Linked DNA regions of Homo sapiens: all the other regions are linked to region 3. The links come from fine-mapping of genetic effects on gene expression. A gene starts in region 3. Each other region holds a variant in brackets. All regions are shown on one strand. Distances are from middle to middle.

Region 1 (2,764 bases), 320 kb after region 3:
CAATTCCATCCCCATCAAGCTACCAATGACTTTCTTCACAGAATTGGAAAAAACTACTTTAAAGTTCATGTGGAACCACAGAAGAGCTCGCATTGCCAAGTCAATCCTAAGCCAAAAGAACAAAGCTGGAGGCATCACACTACCTGACCTCAAACTATACTACAAGGCTACAGTAACCAAAACAGCATGGTACTTGTACCAAAACAGAGATATAGACCAATGGAATAGAACAGAGCCCTCAGAAATAATACCACACATCTACAACCATCTGATCTTGGACAAATCTGACAAAAACAAGAAATGGGGAAAGGATTCCCTATTTAATAAATGGTGCTGGGAAAACTGACTAGCCATATGTAGAAAGCTGAATCTGGATCCCTTCCTTACACCTTATACAAAAATTAATTCAAGATGGATTAAAGACTTACATGTTAGACCTAAAACCATAAAAACCCTAGAAGAAAAGCTAGACAATACCATTCAGGACATAGGCATGGGCAAGGACTTCATGTCTAAAACACCAAAAGCAATGGCAACAAAAGCCAAAATTGACAAATGGGATCTAATTAAACTAAAGAGCTTCTGCACAGCAAAAGAAACTACCATCAGAGTGAACAGGCAACCTACAGAATGGGAGAAAATTTTTGCAATCTACTCATCTGACAAAGGGCTAATATCCAGAATCTACAAATAACTCAAACAAATTTACAAGAAAAAAACAAACAACACCATCAACAAGTGAGCAAAGGATATGAACAGACACTTCTCAAAAGAAGACATTTATGCAGCCAACAAACACATGAAAAAATGCTCATCATCACTGGCCATTAGAGAAATGCAAATCAAAACCACAATGAGATACCATCTCACACCAGTTAGAATGGCGATCATTAAAAAGTCAGGAAACAGCAGGTGCTGGAGAGGATGTGGAGAAATAGGAACACTTTTACACTGTTGGTGGGACTGTAAACTAGTTCAACCATTGTGGAAGTCAGTGTGGCGATTCCTCAGGGATCTAGAACTAGAAATACCATTTGACCCAGCCATCCCATTACTGGGTATATACCCAAAGGATTATAAATCATGCTGCTATAAAGACACATGCACACGTATGTTTATTGCAGCACTATTCACAACAGCAAAGACTTGGAACCAACCCAAATGTCCAACAATGATAGACTGGATTAAGAAAATGTGGCACATATACACCAAGGAATACTATGCAGCCATAAAAAATGATGAGTTCATGTCCTTTGTAGGGACATGGATAAAGCTGGAAACCATCATTCTCAGCAAACTAT[C/T]GCAAGGACAAAAAACCAAACACCGGATGTTCTCACTCATAGGTGGGAATTGAACAATGAGAACACTTGGACACAGGAAAGGGAACATCACACACTGGGGCCTGTTGTGGGGTGGGGGGAGGAGGGAGGGATAGCATTAGGTGACATACCTAATGTAAACGATGAGTTAATGGGTGCAGCACACCAACATGGCACATGTAGACATATGTAACAAACCTGCACATTGTGCACATGTACCCTAAAACTTAAAGTATTTTAAAAAAAACCACACACACACACAAAATTAGCCGGGTGTAGTGGCGGGCACCTGTAGTCCCAGCTACTCGGGAGGCTGAGGCAGAAGAATGGCGTGAATCCAGGAGGCGGAGCTTGCAGTGATCTGAGATCATGCCACTGCACTCCAGCCTGGGTGACAGAGTGAGACTCCGTCTCAAAAACACACACACACACACACATATAAAGAAAATAGCCAGGCATAGTGGCATAAGCTTGTAGTCCCAGCTACCAGCAAGTTGAGGCAGAAGGATTGCTTGAGCCCAGGAGCTTGAGGTTACAGTGAAATTTGATGTGCTATTCACTGCACTGCAGCCTGGGTGACAGAATTAGACCCTGTCTAAAAAAAATAAAAATTAAAAAAAAAGTTCAAGTCAATTTTGGCTTCTATTTTATAACATTCATTCTATTTTAATTTTAAAAATACCCTCAATTACTTTTTATATAGCTTATTTTACCCAAATAGTTAAGCAAAATTAACATCCCTGAAAGATGCACCATCCTTTTTCTGTGGCTTTGAGTGTGCCTTGACCCACTCAGTGGCTTCCTGAGCATAAGATGTCTAATTTGGGAAGCACGATCTTAAATGTTAGTTGTCTTTTGCTCAAGTTTTCTTTCTGCTAGGGGTGCCATTTCCTTCTTGAGCAGGAGAATTCTTGGTTATCAGCTCAAATCCTACCTCTTAATTTAAAATTACTGAACATGTTAATTCAATAAAGAGTTCATGATAGGCTTTTCCTGCTAGCCTGCCTGGCCCTACTCCTCCCATTAGAACTAACTTAGCCTCCCTTTGTATTTCCATAGCACTTTGTAATGCCCCTGTCATAGTTCTAATCCCATCATGTTAGGACTTAGTTTGGATGTGTCTGTTTGTCACTAGTTCAGTGAAGGCAAAAGCAAAAGAGAATCTTACTTATTTTTGCACCTTGGAGCCCATCACAGTGCCTGGTATGTGGCTGGAGCTCTTTTCACCAGAAAGGAAGAGGCTACCCAGGCTTTGAATGGTGTGTGCTGTTGAACTCTGATGGTAAAGAGATTCACCTGGATCACTGCTCCCTACAGCAGAATCACCTGCAGGGCTTGATTGGGTAAAGTTTCCCACTCTTGCCTTTACTCATTTCAGGCTGAGGATGTTTGCAAGAGATAGTAGGGACCTTTCCTCTAACCCTAATTAAACTTGCCTTTGCTGG
Region 2 (2,764 bases), 590 kb before region 3:
AAACCACTCCAAAGCAAAGAAACATGATTTTATGAGAGTATATAATTAAAGTACCTGAGCTACACTGGAGAGTCATGAAAAGCATGATAAAAGGATTTCTGATTTGAATATGAAGAATGAGTAAGAGCTAAGTAGGGGTGTGTGTGTGCAGGTATGTAGGTGGGGAGAGACAAAGGGAGGGAAATAGGGAGGGAAAGAAGGAGAGGGAGAGAGAGGAAAAGATAGACATGAAGTGGAAGTGCTCCATCATTGTGTGCAAAGAGAACATATGTGCAAAGGCCTTGGTTCATGTCTTCCTTATATCTTATACTCTAGCTATTATCAACTGCTAGTACTATCCCTGAGAATACCAAGATAACTCATATGTTGGCTCCGTGACATGTGCTACTTCCACTACTTAAAGCGTCCTTTTCTTATTCTTGCCTTCTGATTAAAGATTTTTTAGCTGTTAAGACTCAGCTCAAGTGTCATCTTCTCTGTGAAGTCATATCTGACTCCTCTCCCCTCAAGAGTTGCGTGCATCCTCTTTTGTTTCCCCAGTGTAGCCTGAAATCAATTATGGCTTCTAAATATATTTACAGTATTTGCTAATCCCTGGCACTTGCTGTACAATAGGTGTTAAATAAATGTTCAATATGTTAAGTATTCAAAAATGGTTGGCAGACGAATGAATGTGGCTACAAAAACGTTCTTAGAAGATTCATGCACGAATGACCAAATAAGTAATATTTTCTAACACAAAGTTTTATATTTGTTATATATACTTTTTGCTGATCCATATATATTGTTTCCTTCAAAATTTGAGTCAACATCTTAAGAATGTTTAGAAAGACTGCTTTGGCTGGGCAAATCACTTCAGCTCAGGAGTTTGAGACAAAGCTGGGCAACATGGCAAAACCCCACCTCTACAAAAATACAAAAAATAGCCAGGTGTGGTGGTGTGTGCCTGTAGTCTAGCTACTTGGGAGGCTGAGGCACAAAGATGGCTTGAGAACCGGGTGGGGGGTGGGGAGTGGAGGTTTTAGTGAGCTGGGATTGTACCACTACACTCCAGCCAGAGCAACATAGCGAGATCCTGTCTCAAAAAAAAAAAAAAAAA[G/AAG]ACTGCTTTGATTAATTCTGTATAACTTAGATTATGTCATTATTCTGTCTAGCATAGTGCCTAAGTCATCGCTGATAATAAATATTTGTTAAAAGAATAAAGAAATGAAGTTGGCATTCTCAAAAAGTTTTTGGTGGGAAGTATTTCTCTTTTCTCCTGTTCCCCCACACATGCACATAAACTCAAAATGCTCATATCAATATTCTGCATAATCCTCTAAATAAACTGAATAATGAGTAGCTGGAGGTCATCTGGGGAGGTCATCTGGGGCAAGCCTAGTATGGAGTTCCAGGGAGGTCCATATGTGAAAGTACTCTGAAGCGATTCTAAGGAGCAAGGTCTTTGTTATCAGGGAAAGTATACCAATTGTGGAGAGAATATGTGCTCACTTGCACTATGTTCTCAACCTTACTCTGAACCTTTCCAGTTGGTAAATGTGTCTCTATATTGCTAGCTAAGGAAGAATCAGTCAAACAACTACATAGAAGTTTCTTGGTACCAAGAGAGGAGTCATTTTTCTTATTTCTCTTATTTCTCAACAGTTAATGTGCATGCAAATCATCTCGAGATCTTGTGAATATACAGATTCTAATTTAGTAGGGCTGGGACAAGGTCTGAGATTCTAAATTCTTTTTTTTTTTTTTTTTTTTGCCTTTTTCTTTTCTTTTTTTTTGTTTTTTTATTATTATTATACTTTAAGTTTTAGGGTACATGTGCACAATGTGCCGGTTAGTTACATATGTATACATGTGCCATGCTGGTGTGCTGCACCCATTAACTTGTCATTTAGCATTAGGTATATCTCCTAATGCTATCCCTCCCTGCTCCCCCCACCCCACAACAGTCCCCAGAGTGTGATGTTCCCCTTCCTGTGTCCATGGGTTCTCACTGTTCAATTCCCATCTATGAGTGAGAACATGCGGTGTTTGGTTTTTTGTCCTTGCGATAGTTTACTGAGAATGATGATTTCCAATTTCATCCATGTCCCTACAAAGGACATGAACTCATCGTTTTTTATGGCTGCATAGTATTCCATGGTGTATATGTGCCACATTTTCTTAATCCAGTCTATCATTGTTGGACATTTGGCTTGGTTCCAAGTCTTTGCTATTGTGAATAGTGCCACAATAAACATACGTGTGCATGTGTCTTTATAGCAGCATGATTTATAGTCCTTTGGGTATATACCCAGTAATGGGATGGCTGGGCCAAATGGTATTTCTAGTTCTAGATCCCTGAGGAATCGCCACACTGACTTCCACAGTGGTTGAACTAGTTTACAGTCCCACCAACAGTGAGATTCTAAATTCTAACAAGCTGATGCTGAGGCTGCTGGTCCATGGATTACCCTTTTTGAGGAGCAGAGCACTATAAGATCAAACTGAATATAGACAAATTCAGACTAAGAGAAAATTTAAGGAATAAAAAAATTAGTGAACTACAGGAGTCCAAATTTTACATTAACACCAAGGTTTGTCTTATGAAGACAGAAAAATAAGTATCAATCTATCTAACTTCCTGATACAGTCATGAGTCACTTAACAATGGGGATATATTCTGAGAAATGCATTGTTAGGCAATTTTGTTGTGTGAACATCATCACAGAGTGTACTAACACAAACCTAGATGGTATAGCCTATTATACAACTAGGCTACATGGTATAG
Region 3 (2,764 bases):
TGCCCTCTCAAGTAAAAAGCTGGATCCCCGGCAGCAGGCTGCAGCCCGTCCTCGCTAAGGAAACGACGAGGCAGACAGAGGGCCTTTTGCGCGGAAAGGCAGAAGGCAGACACTTTCCGAGGTCCGGACGCAAGCCGATCCCCCATCCCCCGAGGGAGGCGAAGGGTGCCCCATGGGTGGCTGAGGGGACGCCCGGCCCGCGAGGGACAACCCGAGGAGGAGCAGTTTCATCTGATTAACACCTGAGTCTCGTCCAGGCAAGCACAGATACTGGCGTGGGGCCGCCCAGGTGGGGGGAAGGGAAGGAGAGGAAGGGGGTGGAGATGGGATTCCCCCCTCTCTCTGAAGAGCACTAGCGGAGGATGCGCCCAGGCCAGCCGAGAGCGGCATGCTTCAGACTGCGGAGCCGGGATCCCGCCGCCTGCACCGACAGCGCGGAGCCCCGCAGCGCCCTCCGCACCGGCCCCTCGGTCCCCGGGGGCCCAGGACTTTGCTTCCGAAGGCGCTGGGGCCTAACATCCCACGGGGTCGACCCCGGCTCCTGGGGCCTGGGGGAGGGGACCCGCGGGAACACCCCCAATCTCCGGCGGTTCTCAGCGGTTGTAAAATGCACCCCCGCGGTTCCCTTCTTCAGCCTTCCCTCCTCCCGAGGCCGCAGAGAAGGGCCACCACAGGCGAAAAGCCTAAGGCAATGCAGGGACAGCAGCCTCATAGGTCCCAGACCTCCTCCCCCGGTTACCTGTAAGGACTCCGACACGGATTTGATGGTCGTGGTTAGTAAGGATCATTCCCTCGGTCGCCATGTTTCCCAGCGCAGTCACCGCACTGACAGGAGCCGGGAGAAACCGGAGCCCGGAGCGCGCGGGCCGGGAGCGCGCTCGCCGAGGAGAGCGCGACAGCTAGGGAGCCAGAGAAGCGCGAGGAGAGCGGGGAAGGAGGGGGAGGCCACAGAGTGCACGGTGGCCTGCGTGGGGGAGAGGCCGCGCCGGGAGTGCGCGGGTCCGCGGGAGGGGAAGGAGTCAGGGCGCGCGGCCCCAAGTCCGGCAAGAAGGAGGCAAGCTTGGGGGGCGCGGTGGCCGCACGGGGAGAGCGCGCGGAGGCGGCAGAACGAGGCCGGAGAGTGTCGGAACGCTCTGCGGAGCGCGAGACCCAAGGCAGCTAGATGGCAGGACTGAGAGGAAAGGATAGCACACGCTCTGGAGGTTGCGGGGGCGGACTCGGGGACAAGGGCGGAGCTACACCCCTAGGCGTGGAACTCGTGGAGAGTGAGGGGAGGAGTGAGAGCTCGGGTGCTGAGTATTGGGAGCGGGAAGGAGCCGGCCCAGCCTGAGTAGGACCGCGGATCGCTCCTGGGCGCGCGAGTAGCACCGGATTGGCTGAGTGAACGCGGAGCGTGTGCGCGCGAGGCACGAACGCAACCTCGGCCGGGCCCCAGACAGAAGCAATCCCCTGCCGAGCCTGACACCTCGTTGGTTGTCCGCGCCTTAGGCTGGCTCTCGCCGGCGGGCCGGCTTTCTACGCGGGGGCAGCGAGGCTGGCTCAGCACCCCGGGCCTCCTCTTGCAACCCTCGGGAATGGCCGGCCGCCCCACTGAAAGCGCTGGGGAACCGAGAGGTGTCTTAGAAAGCTGCATGAGTGGCAGAACGGTGGCTACTATGACAGAGAGGCCGCCGTGGGCGAAGAGGGAGGTATCCTGTCCTGCCTCGTGCTAGCCGCTGGCTTCCTCAGTGGGCTCTCCCTGAAGGAGGATTTCCGCTTCACCTATGCTTTAGGATTCCATCTCCAGTCAGTGCCTGCAAGACGATCCTCACGTGCGAAACTGAGGAGTCTGAGGCAGGGCAGCTGGAGTGGAGATACCTGGCTTCTCTTCCTCCTGCTGTCCCACGGTTTTGTGGCCTTAAGCCTCTTCGCCATGAGCGCTGCTTTTAGATGAAAAGCATCAATCTCCTTAGCGAACGAGAACGTGTTCCACCTGAACCACAGTCCATTGCCGCGGCGATTTTCATTTCAGTATTCGTGGGATGTGAGATTACCATGAAAGTAGCTTTTGTTGCCATTTATTTCCATGTGCCTTTCATGAAACGTGTTATTAATCACCTGTGGCTATTCTACGTTAGTTTCTTACTATCGTTCTGGACCTTTCAACTTCTGAATTTTAAAAAGTTATATGCGTGTGTGTGTGTGTACACACACTCATATGTATATGTTTTCTCTTCTTAGCTGTAGTAACCTGGAGGCATAAAAGTGAAAAGCAAAGTATTAAAAGATGTATATCAGTGTTTATACACAAATTTCAAAGTCACTTTGATAGGTTTTTTTTTGGTTTTGGTTTTGGTTTTTTTTGATCCGGAGTCTCGCTCTGTCGCCAGGCTCCAGTGCAGTGGCGCGATCTCGGCTCACTTGCAACCTCTGCCTCCCAGGTTCAAGCGATTCTCCTGCGTCAGCCTCCCGAGTAGCTGGAACTACAGGCGCGTGCCACGACACCCAGCTAATTTTTGTATTATTAGTAGAGACGGGGTTTCACCATGTTGGCCAGGATAGTCTCGATCAAGATCTTGACCTCGTGACCCGCCCGCCTTGGCCTCCCAAAGTGCTGGGATTACAGGTGTGAGCCACCGTGCCTGGCCGATTATGAGTTTTTTATTGTTCCGTTGGAACATGAAATTACCCATCCTCTGAAGATTCACGTGCTTATGTATTTCATTTTAAATAATGGGGCCTAAAAGTAGATGATGGATGGAATTGAAGTGGGTAAAATAAATTA

Which allele goes with the higher level. Positions count from the first base shown, and alleles are read on the strand shown. Sizes are in standard deviations (SD) of each study's normalised expression. Not every link is listed here.
In carriers of allele T in region 1, the expression in prefrontal cortex of the gene that starts at base 1,184 in region 3 tends to be higher than with C alone (large effect, 1.0 SD a copy in ROSMAP).

The links. PIP is the estimated chance that this variant, and not a neighbour inherited with it, causes the effect. A credible set is the group of variants that fine-mapping cannot tell apart.
Region 1: its variant is the best candidate, but not a certain one, in a credible set for the expression of GPHN in prefrontal cortex (ROSMAP, PIP 0.61).
Region 2: its variant is the best candidate, but not a certain one, in a credible set for the expression of GPHN in whole blood (INTERVAL, PIP 0.74).

What each region holds. Positions count from the first base shown.
Region 1 is chr14:66,182,539-66,185,302 of GRCh38, reverse strand. No RefSeq gene overlaps it. Among named protein-coding and RNA genes, the nearest start is that of LINC02290, 72 kb to the right of the region's middle. The variant C/T (reference allele first, on the strand shown) is at 1,302.
Region 2 is chr14:67,094,952-67,097,715 of GRCh38, reverse strand. All of the region lies in intron 12 of GPHN (gephyrin), which reads right to left. The region is part of intron 4 of LOC105370538 (a long non-coding RNA gene); the gene reads left to right. Among named protein-coding and RNA genes, the nearest start is that of GARIN2, 93 kb to the left of the region's middle. The variant G/AAG (reference allele first, on the strand shown) is at 1,100.
Region 3 is chr14:66,506,567-66,509,330 of GRCh38, reverse strand. It overlaps GPHN (gephyrin), which reads right to left and starts at 1,184. Exons shown (of 23, transcript NM_020806.5): 1 at 740-1,184. The coding sequence starts at 803. RefSeq lists an enhancer at 200-359 and silencers at 450-599, 950-1,139.